5 separate regions of the Homo sapiens genome follow, and all the other regions are reported to be linked to region 4. Evidence: microRNA targets listed by miRTarBase, many of them from high-throughput screens and not tested one by one. Region 4 holds a microRNA gene; each other region holds the end of a gene's coding sequence.
What was found. The annotated mature microRNA hsa-miR-425-5p reads AAUGACACGAUCACUCCCGUUGA and lies in region 4 at 2,811-2,833, shown strand. An mRNA with a match to its seed (bases 2 to 7 or 8) in the 3' UTR can be bound and repressed. Matches are read on the target gene's strand: a 7mer-m8 pairs with bases 2 to 8, a 7mer-A1 pairs with bases 2 to 7 and ends in A, and an 8mer does both.

Region 1 (4,601 bases), not on the chromosome of region 4:
CTCCGTGCTTGCCCTTTGCAGCTCAGGAAACTGGCCAGTGAGTGACTCCCTTGAGTGTGCTGGCCTGCACCCTGCATCTCATCATGGAAAAATCCCTCACCGTGCTTCTGCAGGGGGCCAGGCTTGCTTGCTCTCTGCAGGGCTCAGAAAGGGGAACAGTGGCACCCCTGTGTGCTGCTGCAGAGGGAAGTCAGCTCCTTCCCCCGTGGGCAAGATGGAGCCAGCAGTGTTGTGCCTCACCTGGTTACGGTGCAGGGAATGGGCTGGGGGCAGCTGTCCCAGAACCTGTGGCTGCTGCTGTTGCCCCTCATGTTTGAGCACTGAGCTGGGGGCCTCTGTCCAGAAACGAAGGGGTCCTGAAGAAATCATGCGGTTTTAAGTCATCGTCATTAAGGTTTCCCTTTCGCCAAATGTTGATGTCATTCTCAAGGTGGCTCCAGTCTGCCTTCTTGAAAAGTATAACATAAGTATTGTTTCCGTGACTTCTGAACAATTCCACTCTTTGATAGTAACATCCCAAACGTGGCCTGTTTGATTTTTTTGTGAGTTGCAACAGCCCCGGTGTGTGTGGTAGCATCTGGTGCTCCTGTCGCCCTTTGTCTCATTTGCAGACACAGATTTGTAAGAACCTTGCTTATTCAACCATGAGCGCCAAGATATTTTGAGTGATGTTTTTCAGAGCAGAGACTGCATGGATTTGAAAATTGCTTGCTGTATATTCAGTTGCCATTGGAAATAGCTGTAGATATTGAGTAATAATTTGGGGAAATCATAAACACTATGTCAATATTTCCTTTTTTAAAAACTGCCCAGGCTGGCGCGGAGATCTCCACCGTGAACCCAGAACAGTATTCAAAGCGCTTTTTGGACTTTATTGGCCACATCTTGACGTAACCTCCTGCGCAGCCTCGGACAGACATGAACATTGGATGGACAGAGGTGGCTTCGGTGTAGGAAAAATGAAAACCAAACTCAGTGAAGTACTCATCTTGCAGGAAGCAAACCTCCTTGTTTACATCTTCAGGCCAAGATGACTGATTTGGGGGCTACTCGCTTTACAGCTACCTGATTTTCCCAGCATCGTTCTAGCTATTTCTGACTTTGTGTATATGTGTGTGTGTGTGTGTTGGGGGGGGGTGAGTGTGTGCGCGCGTGTGCATTTTAAAAGTCATAAATTAATTAAAACAGATCCACTTCGGTCAGTATGTGTCCCAACAAAGACCCTTTGATTCCAGCTATGGCCGAATGAATGAGTGAGTGAGTGAGTGAGTGAATGAACACACGTGTGGGGGAGGGGAGAAGGAAGTGCATGATGTCAGGCACCGTGTTGGCATCACACAACAAACTGTGGATCAGTTTTTTTTTTTTTTTTTTTTTTTTGGAGTTGAAAGATGTGAGACAGTATTCAGAATAATGAAGATAATAATGATGATTATTATAATAATGATGATGATTCCAAGGAAAAAACCTACAGCGAATGTTCCATTTCTACCCCGCACGCAGACACTCTCCCTAACACTGATAACCTGAGCCCCCAGCACTGGACGGAAGAATGCTGGCGTCTCCGTGTGTACTGGTTCAGGGTTCTGGCCCCAGCCTTGTCAGGACCCCCTGGTGTCCAGAGCCCCCACCCCTCCCGCAACAAGCAGCTGATGCCCCAGTGATTCTCTATACATTTTTCACCTCGGCCAATATGTCCAGGAAAACTGCTTACTTCTCTTTTCTTGCCTGGAGCCTTCATTGTTCACCCTTACGTTGCAATATAGGAATTAATGCTACAAAATAAAAGTAAAGCTTACCTGAAAAGTGCATAGTTTGGGGCAATGGTATCTACATCTCCCACTGTGGGAAAACCAGCAAAGCATCAAAACTCTCAATTCTCCTGTTACCAAATGCAGATCTGAATTATAAGATGTTTATGTTTGACCATTGTTTCAACAATGGGATTTTGTTACGAATTATCCCTTTAACTGAAACCCTCAGTTTTACTGTTTACATTATTAGGAAAACAGGGATATCTTTTGAATCTAAAAATTTGATGTACAGCATGTGATTTTTGAAGTTTACATGTAAAGTCACAGTATAGGTGAAATAACGTTTGTCATATTTTGAGACGTATCCTGCAGCCATGTTTTTACGTGAGTGTTTTAGTCAAAGTACATGGTAGACAGTCTTTCACAATAAAAGGAAAAGGATTTTTTTTTCCTCCAAATGTACATTTATCAACCTAATGATTGATTTTTTTAAAAAGAGATTTCGCCCCAGTCTGGTTTATGAAAGTTCATTGCCCTAAACTGTGCTGATTGTTTTTAATCAAGTTATAAATTTCCAACCTAGATCATGTATCTACCAACTCTCCTGCATTTTCCAAAAGGCATTGAGCTTAAATATTAGTCTTGCTTAGAGTAGGTTATCCACTTACATGCTGCGCTAAAGCCATGCCTTTGAAACTCCTTGTTTAAAACATGATATGATTTTTGTGGGCAGTTTCAGAAAAGAAAACAAACAAACAAAAATCGACCCTTTAATTATTACTTGCAACTCAACAGATCTCCCTGCCGTACTGCCTTTTCCAGGAACTTTACTTCAGGGCTGTCCAGATTGCAGCTGTGCCCCGTGTATGTGGATCTAGTTCACAGAGTCTTTGGAAGCCAGCAGTCGTGCCCTCCGTATACTGTCCACTCATTTTATGTAGATTTGGTATCCTCAGCAGCCAGTGTTAACACCACTGTCACGTAGTGTACAGATTCATCTTTTATGTATTTAAAGTAATCCATACTATGATTTGGTTTTTCCCTGCACCATTAATTCTGGCATCAGATCAGTTTTTGTGTTGTGAAGTTCTACTGTGGTTTGACCCAAGACCACAACCATGAGACCCTGAAGTAAAGATAAGGTACACATACATTATTTGAGTAACTGTTTCCTTGGGGGCCAATCTGTGTATGCTTTTAGAAGTTTACAGAATGCTTTTATTTTTGTCTATAACAAACAGTCTGTCATTTATTTCTGTTGATAAACCATTTGGACAGAGTGAGGACGTTTGCCCTGTTATCTCCTAGTGCTAACAATACACTCCAGTCATGAGCCGGGCTTTACAAATAAAGCACTTTTGATGACTCACAAGATGAATCCTTTTTTCCTCTGTCCCAATTGTGTGTCTCTGTTCCAAACACATTTTAAATACTCGGTCCTGACAGTGTCTTTAGCTAATCCTTGAAGAAATGAAAGTGGAATTGAATCTTTTTAGTTTCTAGAGCCTTGCCTTCAGTTTGGGAATTATTTTATCAGTAATAACAAACTTCCACAACACAATTGACTTTGCCGCAAGATGAACAAGTAGAGGAAAAGAATCTCTTCCATGAACATCCTATAAAGTCATATGTTTTGTTTTTAGCTTTGATACACCTTAATTCTATGTGTATCACCATTTTTTGAAACTTCCTTGGGATACCATTGATGGATAGCAGACTTAACGGCATTCCACTTGGTGCCAGGTTAACACAGACAGCTTGTCTATAGCACTTGCTCTGATAACTCATTTTTCTTCTAATGCAACTGATGTATTATAGCAGGGGTCCCCAAACCCCGGGCCACGGACCGGTACTAGTCCATGGCCTGTTAGGAACCTGGCTGCACAGCAGGAGGTGAGCAGCTGGCCAGCATTACCGCCTATGCCCCGCCTCTTTCAGATCAGCAGCAGCATTAGATTCTCATAGGAGCGCGAACCCTATTGTGAACTGCACATGGGAGGAATCTAGGTTGAGCACTCTTTATGTGAATCTAACTAATGTCTGATGATCTGAGGTGGAACAGTTTCTTCCTAAAACCATCTCCTCAGCCCCCTGCCAGTCCGTGGAAAAACTGTCTTCCACAAAACCAGCCCCTGGCACCAAAAAGATTGGGGACCACCATATTAGAGAATAATTTGAGCATAATGCACTTGTCACATTGCTTGTGTGCCGTTTGGTCTGCAAGGAACATTAGGTGAATGCAGAGAACTGCACTCAACTGAGCTGCATAGGGAAACACAACACACCGACACTTCAAACATCTCCAGCACCTCACTTCAGTGCATGTGATTTGTTACACTCGTTCATATCTGGAGTTACACGTTTCCACCTGACATCAGATCACCTTTCTCCTCTTTACAATAACCCAAGAGCTGCCATCCTTCTGATGCCCACAACCACAGGCGTGCCTTACATCTTTTTCAAGGTAACTTGCCCTGTTTTTATATTTTGAATATTTCCTAACCAGTTAGCGTTTTTATAATTGTGCTACTGTTTTTATTAGATTTCTTTTTCTTTTCAGTGTGTGACTCATTACATTTTGGGATGTTGTGGCCCTAGTTTCATTTTTCCCAGAAGTTCTGTGATTTCCATTGTGCAGCTTTGCCTAAAGCAGTGATTTCTAGGAACATACATGTTGCATTATTGTAGAATTGACTGTGGTCAGCAGGGAGCTTTAATTCAATGTTCTTTGTGGACTGTTTGAATGTGGACATTCATTTTCCCTTCATTTTGGTTAAGTTCCTGGATTAGAATCCACAATAGTTCCAGAAGGTTATTTCTAATTCATGGAAGGGCAAAAGTTGGTAT
Region 2 (4,601 bases), not on the chromosome of region 4:
TTTGAAATAACTTCATAAAAGGATTTAAGCTGAATAATATTATAAATTGATCTCTTTCCAATTTGCAGGGTGATGACATAAGATTTTAAAAACTGATGTGATTTGAGAATTAAAATAAGTAGGAAGGAAGATATGCTTAGACCTAAATATGGGAAATATAGGAGAAGGCTCAGTTCTAACCAGTCAATTCCCAAAAACATTCAGCTTTGGGATGTCGAACCTTATTTTTGTCCTTGGTGGTTTTCTATTTAGCTGGAGAATCTGTGTTTATCCACTAAAGTAGCTATAACTTAAAATATTCATTTTATTTTTAGAATACTAGAATCCAGTAGGTCGGAAAATGGGGACAGGAACAGAAAAGTCTGCAACACAGATGCTTAAAAAGCCAACGAGACGAGAAATTTGTGAATGGCAAACTGCAAACTAAGCTTCTCCCTCTTTGTATTCAGCTTGGGCAGTTCTTTGTTAGAAATTCTCATTCAATTTTAATCTGAAAAGTTGTAGAAAACCTGGAGTCCAGAAAACAAAACATTAAAGTAATTCTGCTAGGAATAAAGTGGCATAATCCATTTTGAGAAAGTAAGCCAAAACATGAAATTGTTTTGAGATGCTATAGTTGAATTTAACAAGGAGCCCAAATTACGGAATCTCAGGCTCAGATGCTGTGTTAAGAGGCATCATCAACATGATGTTGAGGGAACATCTGAAGGTAAGGATGGTGGCTTGTGTTCTGGGGCACAGCACACCTGTTTGTTTACACAGGTGAAGTAATCAACAGAGTTGGCCTTGAACAGCAAAATGGAAAGGGAAATAGAAATATGCATCTCGGCCAGGCATGGTGGCTCACGCCTGTAATCCCAGCATTTTGGGAGGCCGAGGCGGGTGGATCATCTGAGGTCAGGAGCTTGAGACCAGCCTGGCCAACATGGTGAAACCCCATCTCTACTAAAAAAAATACAAAAATTAGCTGGGCATGGTGGCGCACACCTGTAGTCCCAGCTAATCGGAGGCTGAGGCACGAGAACTGCTTGAACCTGTGAGGCGGAGGTTGCAGTGAGCTGAGGTGAGATCATGCCACTGCACTACAGCCTGGGCAACAGAGTGAGACTCGGTCCCAAAAAAAGAAAAAGAGCATCTCTATGTGTGGGTCAAAGGAAAATCTAGTAAAGGGCCATGTGAACAGCCATCAGTAACTGAAGAGAGGTGTTGCTGAGTGGCACTGAGTTGTGGGGCCAGAACACAGGTTTTGAAGTCATTGGGAGCAAGATGAAAAAAATCCTGTTATTTTCCTATGGAAGAGAATGTATTGGGTACTCAGCTGATTTGAAACAGTAAAATGCTGTGGAAGGCTGGAGGAGTAGCTGCTATCTACTAAGAATGAAAGGAAAAAGTAAGTTTTAAGTGTTCAGGAGGAGTTAGTGAGCCTTAGGAAAAGACATGTAAAACACAAGAACATGTTTAAGAGAGAAATTGTGGACACCTTTCCCTTTAAAATTATGTTTCCATTGTCTTAGATGCAGAACTCCTTCAATCAGATAATCTACAGGTAAGAAGATCACTTTTAAAAGTCACATTCAGTCTACCTGATATAAATATTTTGTAGACCTTGATTCTCCTTCCCTCGAGTATGCTTTATGTGGCCCTGGGCATGTCACTTTCTCTAATACTCAATTTCCCCCGTTGTAAAATAGGGTTGGTATGATTGAATCCAAATAATGCAGTAACAGCTCAGTCAATAATAGCAACTTATGATTATATTAAAAGGAAAAAAAGGCTTAATAATAAAATACAATTTATTAAAGGAATCATGTTTACATAGATACAGAACATCTTGGATATTTCAACACCATAGCAACACAAAATTAATTTCTTCATGTATAAAAGATGTGCTGAAAGCTGCATGCCTCATCAGTTTTTATTTTATTGGTTATGGCTATAGTTGACATCTTTCCATATAAAAACAAACTGCACAGCATCACATATAGAGTACAGACATCTTAAGTTCATTCACAAAGTTAATTTTTCTAAACTGCCCTTCAAAAATTTACATCTTTGCTCAATTCTAAACATTCAACAAAATTAGCTTCCCAAGAAACAAAAATGATACCCAATTTCTTTGCTTTTCTAGAAGTAACTTTCCATTTGTTCATGTATTTTGATATGTTATATTCCCCACCCGAATTAAACCCTTTGTTAAAAGAACAACCTACTTTAGGTTCAGTCTAAAAATAAAGCGTACTAGATTCTGGAGTGTTTTTCAAATATTTTAAAATATTTGCCACTTATGGTTAAAAAAAACGTGAATAAGAATATCATGTGAGTGTAGATAGGCACCATACTATACACTCCTCTCAGAATCATTTCTAGAATGTGTATAATCCCGGCGTTAAGTGATGGTGGGAATGATTTGCCTTTAAAAGCCTACAAATTAAAAGGGGAAAGATGCTAAGCTAGATGCTGGTTTTCTGTAAAGATGAATTTGTGAAAAACTGCTTTATGGTCTAGAAATACGTAAGCCTGGCATTAGCTGATGGCACATTCTAACATTTTATAGCATTAAAAAACATCGACTCATTCCATTGGATGAAAGCCATGGTGACATTTTTACAAAAGCTGTACCCAGGAATCCACTCAACGTCCTCTCTTCAATTGTCGTTTTTCATCAACAAAGCCTATATATATATATATAAATGAGTTGCTGTGCTCTCACCATGGAGCAGTGTTGATTTGATGTAATGAAGTATTAAACGTTCTCCTTGCTCTCTTTGCCTTCAACTAAGTTTCTGTTAGTTTTTGGCATGCCAGATTCTCTGCTTCCATCTTGATTTCCTATCTCACTGCATGACCATCTTAGAGCTGTTACTAATTCAAAGTCTGGGGTTTTTTTCTCCCAAAGGTCAGTCTAAGGAGGCAGCCACCTATATGACATGACGTCAGAGGGATTAGGAAGGACCCACACTCACCTTCCCTAAGGCTTACTGACTTGTACATAAGGTTTATAATTTAGGTATACCCACCCTAAGTAACATCTGATTGAAGGCATGAACTTGCTTGAGATCCACTCTCAGAAACAGGTTTAGAGGGGAAAAGAAAAAGAATACTGGGAGCTTCAAGGAGGAAGAAAAGGGCCACAGAACAAGGGGAAGCTGGGCCTATAGCAGTCCAGCATGGTAAGGGGCCAACAGTTGGCTTCTAAAAGGTAATGGGTTAACACAGTCATCCTAATACCACCTCCTGAGATGCTGAATTTTCTCTCAGCTAAGTACACATTTCTATTTTCAGGGACAGCTTACATAAATCAGAATTATATTTTTAGGAATCTTTAATCATGAATTCCTCTCTAAATTTCAAAATATTTTATGACTTCTAAGGAAACTTTTTTTACAATAAATAATAAAGAAAGATTTGGGATTTGCAGAATCTTCTGGCCCAATTAAAAACAAAAGAAGCTGTAAATATCCAGAACTTAATAGATGTATAAATTATAAACAAAACATGTCCCTGCCCCAAGGTATTGAAATTACATTACTATAGATACATCCCATTTATGAGGTAGTCCGATTCCTCAGATGTAATGGGACGAGCTTTTTTCAGTTTCTGTTTCACCAGTCGTAGTCGGCATGCAACCATGAGAAGCAGCAGAGCAGTGATAGCCAAACCCAGCGCCAGGGGTAGCACTGCACCTTTGAGAAGGTTAGACATGAAGAGGGCAAGCCAGTGATTAGTCACAGTGACAGCTACTGGTCACTATATGATACGCGCTTTGCATGCACTATTTTATTTAATCCAAACAAATTGTTATTAGTATTATCACTATTTTGCAGATTAACTAAGGTGTACCAAGGTTAAGTAATTTGCTTATTTGCCTAGGAGGCTGTAAGTTGTAGGTTCAGGTCCCAAACCTAGACTTTTTTTTTTTTTTTTTTTTGAGATGGAGTCTTGCTCTGTTGCCCAGGCTGGAGTGTAATGGCTCAATCTCGGCTCACTGCAACCTCTACCTCCTGGGTTCAAGCGATTCCCCTGCCTCAGCCTCCCGAGTAGCTGGGATTACAGGTGCCTGCCACTGTGCCCAGCTAAATTTTGTATTTTTAGTAGAGATGGGGTTTCAACATCTTGGCCAGGCTGGTCTCAAACTTCTGACCTCGTGATCCACCTGCCTCGGCCTCCCAAAGTGCTGGGATTACAGGCGTGAGCCACCGTGCCCGGCCAACACAGACCTCTTTAAAACCAAATTCTCTACCAGCTTCCTACAAAATTTGTATGGCATCAATGGGTACACATACTACCATCTGATCACTCATATCCAACTGAAATAGGCATTCTGATCACGAAATTTTTTTGTTGTAGTCATTGACTATATTTATGAATTCATACATGATCATTCTTCAACTAAGTATGAACTAACTCCTGATTTCTTGTTCTAGTTAGGGCTTAAGAAATTTATTTCCTTCTAAATCCAGGGAACTGACTCAGTCAGTAGAACCTTTGTTGAAAACTAACTTCCAAATATGCTGGTGTGATTTTGGACATTAAAGGAAAACATTTCTTTAGTTTTTCCTGTGAGGTGGATTCTAGACACCAGAGTAGAAGTAGCGAGGCTT
Region 3 (4,559 bases), not on the chromosome of region 4:
GGGAGGCCAAGGTGGGTGGATCGCTTCAGCTCAGGAGAACAGCCTGGCCAACACAGCAAGTCTCCCATCTCTCCAAAAAAACAAAATAATTACCCCAGAATGGTGGTGCTTGTCTGTAGTCCCAGCTATTCAGGAGGGTGAGGCAGGAGGATTGCTTGAGCCTGGGGAGTTGAGGCGGTGGTGAGCCATGATTGTACCACTGCACTCCAGCTTGGGCAAGAGCGAGACGAGACCCTGTCTCAAAAAAATAAATAGGCCAGGCATGGTAGCTCACGCCTGTAATCCTGGCACTTTGGGAGGCTGAGGCTGGGTGGATCACCTGAGACCAGGAGTTCAGGACTAGCCTGGCCAACATGGTAAAACCCTGTCTCTACTAAAAACATAAAAATTAGCTGGGCATGGTGGCGGGTGCCTATAATTCCAGCTACTTGGGAGGCTGAGGCAGGAGAATTGCCTGAACCCAGGAGGCAGAGGTTGCAGTGGGCAGAGGTTGCAGTGAGCAGAGGTTGTACCACTGCACTCCAAGTCTGGGCAACAGAGCAAGACTGTCTCAAAAAATAATAATAATAAATAATAAAATAAAATAATAATAATTGGAAGACCACTCTAAAGCAAGTTAGGGAACTATTCCTCAATTCTTTTTCCAGTTGCATAGTATTCCACTGTGTGGGTGTACCATTGTTAACTCGACCAGTGCCCAACTGATGGAGATTTGGGTGTTTTGCTATTACATCAATTAACGTAAATGGCAGGTAGGGTAGGGCTGGTATGGTGGCTTGGTTCCAGGAGATTCTCAAAGACCCATGCTCCTTCAAACTTGTCCAGCAGTGCTCGACTTCGATACTTCATGGTCCAAGGTGGTTGTGACAGCTATAGCTAGAGCAGCCACATTCTAGCCAGGAAGAGGGAGGACAGGGCAAAGGAAAGCATGTCCTGATCCTAAGGGACACCTTCAGAATTGGAATGAACCACTTCTGCTGTCTACCCGTGGTGAGCTCCACTGCACTCATGTTGACCTTCATGGAAACTCTTCTATGTTGCTGGTGGGTTCCTGGACACCCAAATGAGGGCCTATAAAGGTCTGCTCTGTACCTCTGGTGAGCTCTTCTAAACCCATGGTGTTTCTATACGGCCAATACGATCTCATCTATGCCTGTGGTGTCTTCTACACCCACTCCCTTCCCCCCAGGAGGAGTTCTACTGGAATGGGCACTCTACCTGCAGTGGGATCTCACTTACACCTGTGTTAACATCTTTGCCTGTGGAGAGCTCTTCAACGCCCGAGGTGACCTTAGATCATGATTGCTCCAAACCTGTGGTGAGCACTTGAACACCCATGCTGAGTTCCTCTCAACACACAATAAGCTCCCCTACCTTCTGGTGACGCGTCCCTCTCCCTGTGGAGTGTGATCTGGCCCATACCTGTGGCCCACTCTATGTTCATGGTGAGCTCTATTACCCATGGGGAGTTCCTGAGCAGGGGTGGGGCATTGCTCTACATCCAAACCTTTCTCAGCCATGGGGATCTCATCTATACCCCCAGTCAGTTCTACGTCCATGTTTCCAACCACCCTGACAGTTCTTGCACTAACTGTTCTGACTACTAGCTCCTCCAACTGCATGAACCACAGCCTTAAATGTCTCCTGCACCAAGCTGCTTCTTCTGCACACCCTAACCTTGTGGCTCTCACCTGTTTTCCTAGCTTAATTAACAGAATGACCTTCATCCAAGATAAAAATCTCAGTTGGCCTTGGGCTCCCCCTTTGCCTCCAACCCCAATACAAAGAGCCGGATGCCCTTAAGTTTTTATTATTTTTTAAATCTGGGTGTGTAGGATCTCTCGTAGCTTTGATGGTAGTTCAGCTTCACCAGTCCTCTTCTGCTTAAATCATTTCTACAGGTCTGTTTTACTGGTCTTGTCGTCTGTTTTTTTCCCTTCAACACTCCCCCTAGCTATTTGAGGGGACTTCCTGTAAAACAAAAACTAAGTAAACTGTTAATAGTGGTTAACATGGGTGGGGGAGGGGAGGGGATAATAGGAAACGTGTCTATTTCTGACATGATTGGGTTTTTTAAATAAGGTATACATTTTCTAATATCAGAAAAATTAGTAAATAAGATGGTAGGCTGCCTTTTGTCTTCAAGATACACTCCAAACTTCATTCGTAGCCAACCTTCCCCCAAAAAGGGCTCTTGCATTCCTCACATGGAATTTCTTCATTCCCAACAATGCCTCACTTTTCCTTTTTTTTCTTCCACAGTGTTTGCTGGCCTGACAAATACAGTGTCCCCACAGCCTCTTTCCTCTGCTTTCGCAGTCCTAGTGTTCCATGCAGGATCAGAAAGCACTGAGGGCATTCGGTGCACAAATGGATTTGACACAAGGACCCAGATGAATAAGGTCTTTGGAAGGGCTGGGGGAACAGGAGTCAGGGACAACTCTGGATCCACAGGGTTCACGAACAATCTGCTGAGGCTGTCATCCAAGAATTAGAAAGCTGCCACTGCCACAACCACTACTGTATCTCATCACCCACCAAGCTGAAAACCAGACACTGGAATGCTGGTCAGTCATTCCAACTGGCTGGCATTCTCTTCAAATTTTCCTATCCGCAGCCACTATAGTAGGAAGGTGCCCCTACCTCATGCTGCCCTCCAAACAGAATATGCACTCAGAAAGCTAGCTGCAAGGGAGTCAAGTAGTTTTCAGCTTTCTAGCCTCTATAGTGAAGGACAGGCACAAAAGCAAGTGAGATGGAAATCAAGGGCCAACTGATAGTGCCCAGTGCAGATACTGCTGGGAAAAGTCAAGAACAGAGGAAAGGCTGGCTCTACAGGCCTTGACTCTCAGGCCATGCAACAGAAGGGCTGCAGAAGTGACATAACAAATGCCTAGCTTCAGAAAAAACACTCCTAGAGAGTTGGCCATGACGTGGGACTGAAATAGGTCAAGGCCAAAGGCAGTGCAAAAGCCTCCATAAGCATCAAAGGAGACAGGAAAGAGAAGGTTCTAAGAGACAGGAAATATGTCCAAGAATTGGGCTTTCAGAATAGGACTCCAAATTATATTCTGAGTATAACTCCTCCAAAATCCTCCAGTCTGCTTTGGTTTCCAGAGACTATAAATTGCTCTAAAGTTATCTATAGGGAATACATCACCAGCACCATTTAAGAAGAATCAGGGACAACAATAATGCTTTAGGAATACATGGGACACAAGGTACTTCAATTTTCTCCTTTCCTCAACAGTTTTATTGCCTTTTAAGAAAATTTTTGTAAAATATAAATACAAAGGCAGAGAATTTACTTACAAAGTTAAAACACAGATTTCAAACATAAACACACGATTCAGAAAATTTTAGTTTTATGTACATTTCCAAGCAACCTCAACATATTATGTTAGTTTTCAATATTTTACAGGGTACAGAAAAAAATAGCTCAAAGTCTTCTTTAAATAAGAGCATAAAATGTTTAAACATATAAACAATCCGGTTTGATGCGTGAAAACTAATTTCACAGCTTTTAAATTAGGATATAAAAGTTTCATACAATTAGTTGTTGTGTGTGGATATGGTTTGAATTTATATTACACACTACTGGATTACATCCAATAGCATTTACCTGGCCCGAGCAGGTACTCTGTAAACAAAACAAAGTTATATCACCAAGTGCCTTCCCCGAATTCGCTCCCTCAAACCAACCACACAGTTCTGACCACTCTACAGTCATGGCCTGTCATCAGAGCTTTGTATGAAATTAAGTCAAAGTGTGGAGCTCCTTTTACTCATTTTTTTTTCTCCTTAAAAAAGAAAAGAAACAAATGTTCCAAGTAAAAACAAACGTATCCCAAAGCATGTGTGCATTGAAAAGTAAAGAAACATTATAACAACTTCATAAAAACTGACTTAAAAGTTTAAAAGGAAAAAAACATGTTTCTAAGTCCTTCTGACTGGAGTAATTTCTCTTATATAAAGAAGAGATATTTTCATATGTAATAGTGTCCTTTCTTTACAGAAATAGTTGTATTATGACACATATGCACAAGGATTAACACTATAACACACTGTACATGGTGGGTCCAGCTTGCTCACCAGTAGTTGTCTGAGGCCAGATCACTGGGGTGGAGCCACTCTACAGAGGAGCCCAGCAGAGTCTGAATTTCGTTCGTGAATTCCACCAGATCTAACAGCTCCTTACTTTCAGGGTTGAAGGCTTCCAGGTCTTTGGAGCAAGAGAACAAGAGACTTGCAGAAACCTGCCGATAAAATTCTGCCTCTGCAATGGTGACAATTTCCACGTTTGGAAAATTGCAGCGAAATATGCGGGAGGACATTTTCAATTTCTTAAGGACATCCGAAAGCAGTAGCCAGTTTCGTGGCCTACAAAACAGAAAGGAAAATGCTTTGAGTTTCCAGTAAAATGAAAAGTGCGCCCAACTATTAATATTAACTACCAACCCAAGTGGACCAGCCTCTATGTCCTTTCATTCTGCTCCCACCCCTCATTTCTCACCATACCTACTCTCTGATCACCATTTTTTTTTTTTTTTTTTTTTTTT
Region 4 (4,601 bases):
CCTGTCTAGCGCCAGGCCTGTGCTCCCCGCAGCATGCCCCAGTCCCGGGACTCACCGTGTCCTGCACTTCCACAGCAATGCCCCGCTGCCTCATGGCTTGAAGCACCTGGGACTGCAGCCTCTCGGTCCGGTCTCCAGTCCCCACCACCACGATCTCTAGGGAAGGGTGGGTGTGGCTAGTCTACAGTTCTGTTGAGAGGCTGCAGTGGGGGTCGCCTTCTGGGGCCCAGAACACCTCTGTTCTCCCTCCCCTTCCCCAGTACCTATCCGGGGCTCCAGCAACCAGAAGAGGGAAAAGCTGTCTTCGGTGATGTCCTGGTGGGATCCCACCTGTGCAGGGAGGAGGCACATTTAATACGACAAATCCACGCAGCCTCTCCCCATCTCCATCCACTGCAGGAGGAGACAGAGGAAAGCCAAGTTTGCAGGGACCAAGCAGGGTGAGGGCCTGTGACTCTGGGCCTCAGTTTCCACACTGCGGGCCAGGACTCACGTTCCACTGCACCACCGAGTGCGGGAGCAGAGCGCAGGGGCCGAGCACGCGGTTTCCGTTTATCATGAAGCCGCGGCTGTTGTAGCTGTCGATGTACATTGCCTGAGCGGCCTCGCGTTGCAGCAGAGAGATGCGCGTCCGCTGATACAGCTCGTCATCCGCCGGCGAGAGCCGATGCCCTCGCCGCGGGGCCCTGCGGAGGGAAAGGGTCAGGGGCGCGGGGCCGGGCCGGGCAGCCCGAGAGGCCGGAAGGTGCTGGGCTGGCAGTCGCCGGCCCTAGGGGGCTGGATGGTCGAGGGCGCGGGGTCCAAGCTCACCAGGGAAGCTCAACGGGCGGACAGCGCAGCGAGGGTCGCGCTCGGTACAAGCTACGTAGCGCGAGAGCGGTGGCCATGGCTGACCAACGCGCGGCGAAGTCGTCACCGGCGCCGTTAGTCCCCGGGTTGGGAGGGCCCTGCGGAGCCTGACCCAGCGTGGCTGCAGCGCCCCCTGCGTCCCGGAGGGCACCGCACAGCTCGACCGGCCCAGCAGGCGAGTGTCCTCAGTCTTAGGAGGCCGAGTTCCCCGACCTCCGGCGCAGCTCCAGTGTCAGCACCTGCCGCCCTCCCCGCCCCGGGCCCTTGCCCATAGTCCCGGGGGAGTGGAACACCTGGCAGCGTGGCCACCCTCAGGGCGTTGCCTGGGCCGCAGCCGCGGCCTGGCCCCCGGGCTCTCAGCTATTAAGCCGCGCTCCCGGGGCGGGGCGACCGCCCACCTGGTCGCGTCCCGAACACCTGGCCAGGCGGTGGGTGCCAGACTTCTAGCCCCTAATTCCAGCCTTTGGGGCTTCGGGCACCGTGGGCGGGGCAGCCGGCTCAAGTTTCTCCGGCTAGACGCGGAAGCACGCCCCGCCCTAACCGTCACCCGCGCGACCGTTGGCCTCTCCGCAGCGCGCGGAGAGGGGCGTGGCCGAGCGTGGATTGGCTTCTCGGGTTCTCTAGGGGGCGTGGCCAGGTGGTTTCTCCTTAAAATGGCTCCAAGTCTGCAGGCAGCCAGAGCAAGCGGAAGGGCAAGCTGTGATAGTGTTTGGGTGGCTGTTCGGCTGGCCCAGACCAGGCCGAACCGGACCAGACTTGAAGTAGAAGCGCGTGGAGCATCACCTTGTCCTCGTTCACTCTGCTCGCGTCCTGGGAGTCCCCCGTCCCCCGTCTTGATCCAAGTCAAGGGCCTACTGGCGCGAGAGTCGCTGGCCCCCGCGCGGGGTTTGGGCATCTCGGCACGCCGGCTCTGTCGTGGCCTCAGGGGAACATTGTCGCTTTCGCTACCCGCGGGGCCGGGCGAGCGGGAAGCTCGGCACAGTGGGAGCCTGGTGGTGGGTCTCCTGGGGCCGGTCGCAATGGGTTTCCGGGGGTCCCGCGGCTGCTCTGTGGACCCCTTCGGCCCCTGGTGCTCCGGGCGCTGGCAGCGTCACCGGACAAAGGCCACCGAGCGCGGGGGTGTCCCCGAGGTGGACGCGCGGGTTTACTTCCTCTCCGGCCCCACGGGCGCGCTTCCCTCCTGACGGATTCCGAAGCCCGCCCCACCACCGTCACCGCACCAGTGGCCCAGGCTTCGTGGGACCAACAGGGCTAATCCTGCCCCACGGATCTAATCCGGATCGGGACCCGGTCCCAGGGGAGGCCCCCACCTCCCCTTCTATTGTTCTGTGGCCCAGGTGAGCGTCTTGTTCCCTCTAGACTCCGTTTCACAACCTACTCCCGGGTCTTCCTCCTGGGACTGGGGATGGGCGGGTTCTGATGTGGCCCCAGGGCGAGTGACCTGGGGGCAGGAGCTCCCCCGCCCCCCGCCAACGGCTGGACAGCGGGCAACGGAATCCCAAAAGCAGCTGTTGTCTCCAGAGCATTCCAGCTGCGCTTGGATTTCGTCCCCTGCTCTCCTGCCTGAGCAGCGCCCTGGCCCAGATGGGGTGCCCCTGACCCCCAGACATACTTTACTGAGCTGCTTGGGTCTCAGTTCCTCTCAGTTGCGCCCTCAGGCTGGAGGTGATGGGTGTAGACGTGGGAGAGCCGAGGCTGGTGGCCATCTCTGGAACCCTGGGGAGGATTGGCGAGGGAGGGTGGACCCAGGACCTCTGGGTAGGGCTGCAATGGTAGTGACTCCCCCAGGGCTGCCTCAGCCCGCATCTCGCTAAAGATAGCCCTCTTACTTCCTGGGGAAAAACCACCCCAACCGTCTTCGTGGATGAGAGTATCTGAAGTCCTCAGTTTGACTGAGGGTTCCCAACCCTGCTAAGCAGTTGTCTCCAGGTCATGCACCTTCAGAATGGAAAGCGCTTTGGAATGACACGATCACTCCCGTTGAGTGGGCACCCGAGAAGCCATCGGGAATGTCGTGTCCGCCCAGTGCTCTTTCGGCGCCTCCCAGCAGGGCCTCAGCCCTGGCCCAGAAAGGGGCCTTGCCAAGCTTTTCCTGCCCCTGGGTTTCCCTGCTCTCCGGATTTCCCAACTCTCTCTACTGAGTTAGCTTCTCTATTAAAAGGAATGGGGGTGGGGTGGGGGGTGAGTAAGTTACAGTGAAATGAAGACATTTGGGAACCTTTGTGGGAGAAAGAAAAAGACCTTTCCTATTGGTAGAGGAGCAAGATACTCCAACTGAGGCCTATTTTCTATTATGGTCGCATTATTTGGTTGGCCCGTAAATGGCTGTTGCCTAAAACAGGAAGCTTTAAGGATCGTTGTTAAAGCACACCAGGTTAAAGGAGTCACATTAAAAGCTGGTCATTCTGAGCCGGGCGCGGTGGCTCACGCCTGTAATCCCAGCACTTTGGGAGGCCGAGGCAGGCGGATCACCTGAGGTCGGGAGTTCGAGGCTTGACAAACATGGAGAAACCCCGTCTCTATTAAAAATACAAAAGTAGCCGGGCGTGGTGGCGCGTGCCTGTAATCCCAGCTACTTGGGAGACTGAGGCAGGATAATCACTTGAACCCGGGAGGGGGAGGTTGCGGTGAGCCAAGATCACACCACTGTACTCCAGCCTGGGCAACAGGAGCGAAACTCCGTCTCAAAAAAAAAAAAAAAAAGTCTGGTAATTCTGGAAGCCATCATGATGGTTGTGATTTCTCAGGTATCAAGAGAAGAAAACCGCCAACTGTATCAGAGTGCTTATTTATTGGGCATAAAGACCACCCGGGCTGGGTGCAGTGGCTGATGCCTGTAATCCCAGCACTTTCGGAGGCCGAGGCGGGCAGGTCACGAGGTCAGGAGTTCGAGACCAGCCTGGCCAACATGGCGAAACCCCGTCTCTACTAAAAATACAAAAATTAGCCGGGCGTGGTGGCGGGCGCCCGTAATCCCAGCTACTCGGGAGGCTGAGGAGGAGAATCCTGTGAATCCGGGAGGTGGAGGCTGCAGTGAGCCGAGATCGTGCCACTGCACTCCAGCCTGGGAGACAAGAGCAAGACTCCGTCTCAAACAAACAAAAAAACACCCATATCTCAAACGAGAAAATGCTTGCAAATAACCTGAAACCGCGGAACACTATTCTTTTTAAAACGAGATATTTTAAGTAGGTCGTGAAAGTGGCCTTAATGTTATACTGCCTTATTCCAGTGACGAATATTCATCATGTGTAAAATGGGAGAAATGAAATGTTATTAAAACAAACATGTGAGACTTCGATGAGAAGAGACGGTACCCGGTCTAAGCGCCCACCGGGTCGCGAGGATCCTTTTCCTGGTTAAGGCCTGGGTCACAGCGAAAGAACCCTAGGCCCAGGGAGGGCCCCGAGATTTCAGATCCGGGGCCCGGCTGTGCAGGTGGACCACGCGGAAGGGGCGCTGGGGGCGGTAGGTCGAAAGCAGCCGACAGGGCTACCACTGGCGCACCTGTCCACTTACGGGGACCACCGCCGCATCCCCGCCCCAGCTAGTCGGTCCTTTCCGGAAGTTCCACCTCCCTAAATTTTTTTCCGGTTCCGCTTACTCCTTCCGGTCACCATGGCGACCAGGCGCCTTGGGGTCGGGGAGACGCTGGGGGCCCTCAACGCGGCCCTGGGGCCAGGCGGTCCGGTGTGGATCAAGGAGACGCGCACCCGCCACCTGCGTTCCCGAGACTTTCTGGCACCGCACCG
Region 5 (4,601 bases), not on the chromosome of region 4:
GGAGGCGGAAGTTGCAGTGAGCCAAGATCGTGCCTCTGCACTCCAGCCTGACGTCAGAGCAAGACTCTGTCTCAAAAAAAAAAAAAAAAAAAAATTCCATGAAAATGATTTGCCTCATTTTGAGTGAATTATTCTCTCTGTTAGTATAGATAATTGAGAGCTGGACATGCCCCATCCAAAAGCATGTGTTTACACTTGCTTTAAGCACCAATATTGCAAGATAAATATAATCCAATATGGGGGGTGGGTTGAAGAGTGGGAACATTATCCAATTGGAAGTATTGTCAAGGTTGAACTATGAAAATAACCCTTCAACCTCATTTTTCTCCTCTCACAGGGCTGCAACAGTACAACGTACATACAGGATGCCTTCCAGCTGCTGCTGCCTGTTCTGCAGGTCTCACATATCCAGACCAGTTGTTTGAAAGCACAGCCGTGACCTGGCCAGACTCCATCTAGTTAAAGGAGACAGCTGGCCGCCTTGCCTCAATATGTACCATTTAAGGGGATGTTCTCTGTGCGCCTGGCCACAGACATCCATTTGAGGACACTACAAGCAATTTTGCACAGACAATATTGAGAATGCAAATTTAGAGAGAGTTATCATTTCTCTCAATGTGTATAATTGTTTTTACAAACAATTGTGTTTTCTTTATGTTAATTTAAACTTACACAGCTTATATTGAAAATTTCCTTTCATCTGAAATTTATTTACAAATATTCGTGTTCATTTTCCTGGTTAAGCATGCTATATTTAGAAACTCATGGGGAGACCTTAGACTTTTGTTTAATCCTTTATGTTTCAACCTTTAAATGTTCCATTCTTATAGTATTACTTTAAATCAATTCTAAAACTGAACTTTGTTTTGTTACATAAATGTCGCAGGCAAAAATAACACTACTTATAGATTTTACCTATTATGGTAAAAAATAGGAACATATTGTCATTCTTTTTTTTTTTTTTTTTTTGAGACAGAGTCTCACTCTGTCGCCAGGCTGGAGTGCGTTGGCACAATCTCGGCTCACTGCAACCTCCGCCTCCTGGGTTCAATCGATTCTCCTGCCTCAGCCTCCTGAGTAGCTGGGACTACAGGTGTGTGCCACCACGCCCAGCCAATTTTTTTTGTATTTTTAGTAGAGACAGGGTTTCACCATGTTGGCCAGGATGGTCTCGATCTCCTGACCTCGTGATCTGCCCGCCTCAGCCTCCCAAAGTGCTGGGATTACAGGCTTGAGCCACCGCGCCCGGCCGGTCATTCATTCTTGCAACAAGCATTTATTGAGCACCTACTGTGTGCTCACAGTAAAGAAACGTGATCTTATCCCAGTAGAGGTAGATATTCTGAAAAAGAATAATTCTTAAACTGCTTAAAACAGGGGTCCCCACCCCCAGGCCACAGACCAGTACCAGTCCGTGGCACTGGTTAGGAACCAGGCCACACAGCAGGGGGTGAGCGGTGGGTGAGTGAGCACAGCTTCATCTGTATTTACAGCTGCTCCCCAGAGCTTGCATTACTGCCTGAGCTCTGCCTCCCGTCAGGTCAGCAGCAGCATTAGAGTCTCATGGGAGTGCGAACCCTGTTGTGAACTGCACATGCGAGGGATCTAGGTTGTGCACTCCTTATGAGAATCTAATGCCTGATGAATCTAATGCCTCATGATCTGAGGTTGAATAGCTTCGTGCCGAAACCATCCCCCACCCCCATCCCGCTACCCCGAGTCCGTGAAAAAATTGTCTTCCATGAAACCGGTCCCTGGTACCAGAAAGGTTGGGGACCACTGGCTTAAAATACCAATAAATTTTTGAACCTTAAAAACTTTGAAGAACAAGGTAAATTGGTGTTTTATTTAATGTCCTACCCTTTAATTTGTTGCATTTTCCTATACTCTTTACACTATTTTATCCCAAACTATGTATATGAGGTGAAAATATATATGAAAAGGGATACTGAAGAATATTTAGTTTAAAATTAATTTCTTACGATCACGAGCACATGGTGGCATAATTACAAAGCTTGGAAGTATTCAAATAGAAAATCAAAGGTGTTTCAATACAGTAGAATCCCAGGACTGCATTTTAAAATCGCCTCACAGATCACACTCGCTGGTGGCAAATATCATCATCGTTGCTAAAGGACAGAAAATACTGATGTGTGTTTTAACTAACTGGTATATTGATCCATGGGAGGCTGCACAGAAGACCCTGCGGCCAGGAGGGGCATTGTCAGTGGCTGCTTCTCCTGAGCTCCACGCCTTCATTGCAGCTGCATGTTCGATACAATACACCTGCTTCACAGCCCCATGGACATCCCTACAGGTACTGTCATGTGAAGCCTTGCCTAGTAGTTCTCTCCAGGGCAAATGAAGCTCACAGTTTTGCAAGGTGGAAACCTCTTATTCACATTTGCTTTGATTCCCCGATGGAGTAGACTGCCTTTGTTCCATACAGGCAAAGTAAGGATATTTTAATATCATCCTACTTCTTATTAGCATTTCATTTGTCTATGTACTGTATTTCATTTGTATGTCTCCTGAAACATCCAAATAGAGAACATAAGAACACTTTATGTACAATCTGGAAAAAAATTACCTGAGAAATCAATTAAAGATTTTTCCCCTTTTCTGATTGCCAGAAATGTTTTTATTAAGTCTAGAGAATGATTAACTGATGAAAATGTTGCATTTACCTCTTCATCAATTTTAGACTTTTTATGTGTAGGGCAGAGGAAATGATATAGATTTACAATTTCTTCACATCAGTTTTTTGTTGTTTTTTGTTGTTTTGTTTTTTGCATCAGATGGGTTTAGATATTAAGTGGAAATGTAAAAGAGAAACAAGTGGCAGGGCTCAGTGGCTCACACCTGTAATCCCAGCACTTTGGGAGGCTGAGGTGGGCGGATTACCTGAGGTCAGGAGTTCGAGAGCAGCCTGGCAGACATGGTAAAACCCTGTCTCCACTAAAAATACAAAAAAATTAGCCGGATGTGGTGGGTCGCGCCTGTAGTCCCAGCTACTCGGGAGGCTGAGGCAGGAGAATCGTTTGAGCCTGGCTGGCAGAGGTTGCAGTGAGCCAAGATACACCACTGCACTCCAGTCTGGGCGGCAGAGGGAGATCCCGTCTCAATTAAAAAAATAAAAAGAGAGAAAAAAAGAGAAACAAGTATTTCTCAAGGAGCTAGAATCCTAGACTTAGACTTTAAGCCTAACTGCACCTGTGTAGTGCGTGCATAGCAAAAACTTTAATGATAAAATGAAATATAAATGTTTAAAAGAATAAGAGATAATCATTCAAAAAGAAGTGGTTGGTGTCATTGGCATTGCACTTATCTTCTAATGCTGGAATGCCTAAGGTTGCCAGGTGAAGACAGGCTGAGAGATGATTCCCTGGGCCTAGTTCCATAGTCTGTGAATTACATTATTTAAGAGAGAATAATCACTTAAAATAGATCCACCTTCCAGGATTTCTTACAATACTGTTTTTCACCACCACTTTTAGGTAATTGTTTCTTTGCTTTGCTTTAAAATCTGGCAAAGCGCAGGATCCAGATCTGTGCAAATGTCAGTCAGTTACTAAATGAATGATTTAACAGGCTTACCTTGGAAGTTTTTTATTCCTTCAATAATGCTTTACATAAATTGCATTCATTTCATTCTATGCAATTACCCTGAACAAGCGTGCCAGTTTTTTCTCTTAACATCAAGTGCAAAATCAGTTCTAGTCTAAATAATGAATGTAGGCCTGTGCCTGTGCCTTATTAAATAAGAAGCATCAAAAGCGGATCTCAAAATCAAAGTAAAATGAGTTCAAGAAAAACTGCTTTCAGGTATTGATATAGACAGATCGAAAGGGCAAAATTGAGTCCCAAATCTTAAAGCATAGGCCTTAGCTTAAATATTATACCCAACCAAGAAGAGAAGGCTCTGTTTTCTCTGAGTGTCACCCTGGGCTGCACATCAAGCTCATAGCTAAATGAGCAGTGTGATGAGCTGAGGCCCTGGCAGGGGTGAGTGAGGATGTGCTACAGCCTCAGCAATACCAGCTAAGGAACTATGGACCTCAGATGAGGGCTCAAAGGGGTTGAAGGAAGTTCAGCCTTCGGCAGGCTGAAGTAAAGTGCTGAATACAAGGTAGGGGCCTGAATAGGGAAATAAGAGAGTTCCTTTGCGGTTTGTAGAAATTAGCTTCCCCAAGGTGCTCAGATACCTGGGAAGTCACCTTCTGCACAGGCGGGCCATGGTGTTTTCATGTTAGAAATAAAGGCAGACAGATTCCAATCATAGCCATCCCGGAGGTCCAGGATATAACATCTCAGGAAAGCAATTTAGCAACAATTTGAAATGAACATTTAATTTCTCATCTTTCCTAAAAACGTGTGTGTGTGTGTGTGTGTGTGTGTTGAACAGATGGGGTTGATCATAATACATGACTTCAAATGATTTAATTTTTTATAAAAGCAATTATTTTTCAGGGTTAAGCTAGTTTTTTCTATAATGTAAAAACTGCCCTTTGATCTTCCTCCTAAGTAAGCGTGCCCTACATTTTGATATGCAGATCCAGGCTTCAACTTGGTGTCTTAAATTACTGTGTTTGCAAAGGCTC

Region 1: miRTarBase lists PIP4K2A as a target of hsa-miR-425-5p. Seed matches in the 3' UTR shown: 7mer-A1 at 2,100-2,106.
Region 2: miRTarBase lists LRP11 as a target of hsa-miR-425-5p. Seed matches in the 3' UTR shown: 7mer-A1 at 2,922-2,928.
Region 3: miRTarBase lists BCOR as a target of hsa-miR-425-5p. Seed matches in the 3' UTR shown: 8mer at 4,028-4,035.
Region 5: miRTarBase lists FAM114A1 as a target of hsa-miR-425-5p. The part of its 3' UTR that is shown has no 7-base or 8-base seed match.

The regions. Positions count from the first base shown.
Region 1 is chr10:22,533,494-22,538,094 of GRCh38, reverse strand. PIP4K2A (phosphatidylinositol-5-phosphate 4-kinase type 2 alpha) reads left to right here. Exons shown (of 10, transcript NM_005028.5): 10 at 814-3,241. The coding sequence ends at 894. Among named protein-coding and RNA genes, the nearest start is that of LINC03027, 98 kb to the right of the region's middle.
Region 2 is chr6:149,817,021-149,821,621 of GRCh38, forward strand. It overlaps LRP11 (LDL receptor related protein 11), which reads right to left. Exons shown (of 7, transcript NM_032832.6): 7 at 1,737-3,683. The coding sequence ends at 3,529. It overlaps RAET1E-LRP11 (RAET1E-LRP11 readthrough), which reads right to left. Exons shown (of 15, transcript NR_182438.1): 15 at 1,737-3,683. Among named protein-coding and RNA genes, the nearest start is that of RAET1E-AS1, 44 kb to the right of the region's middle.
Region 3 is chrX:40,048,021-40,052,579 of GRCh38, forward strand. BCOR (BCL6 corepressor) reads right to left here. Exons shown (of 15, transcript NM_001123385.2): 15 at 3,231-4,380. The coding sequence ends at 4,089. Among named protein-coding and RNA genes, the nearest start is that of LINC03053, 41 kb to the left of the region's middle.
Region 4 is chr3:49,018,431-49,023,031 of GRCh38, reverse strand. It overlaps MIR425 (microRNA 425), which reads left to right and starts at 2,798; the gene lies at 2,798-2,884. It overlaps NDUFAF3 (NADH:ubiquinone oxidoreductase complex assembly factor 3), which reads right to left and starts at 911. Exons shown (of 5, transcript NM_199069.2): 1 at 811-911; 2 at 494-686; 3 at 264-330; 4 at 56-156. The coding sequence starts at 887. It overlaps MIR191 (microRNA 191), which reads left to right and starts at 2,323; the gene lies at 2,323-2,414. DALRD3 (DALR anticodon binding domain containing 3) reads left to right here and starts at 4,452. Exons shown (of 12, transcript NM_001009996.3): 1 at 4,452-4,601. The coding sequence starts at 4,468. RefSeq lists silencers at 521-570, 631-750, 791-890, 1,111-1,300, 1,337-1,539 and an enhancer at 1,055-1,824.
Region 5 is chr4:38,943,119-38,947,719 of GRCh38, forward strand. It overlaps FAM114A1 (family with sequence similarity 114 member A1), which reads left to right. Exons shown (of 15, transcript NM_138389.4): 15 at 338-2,621. The coding sequence ends at 439. Among named protein-coding and RNA genes, the nearest start is that of MIR574, 77 kb to the left of the region's middle.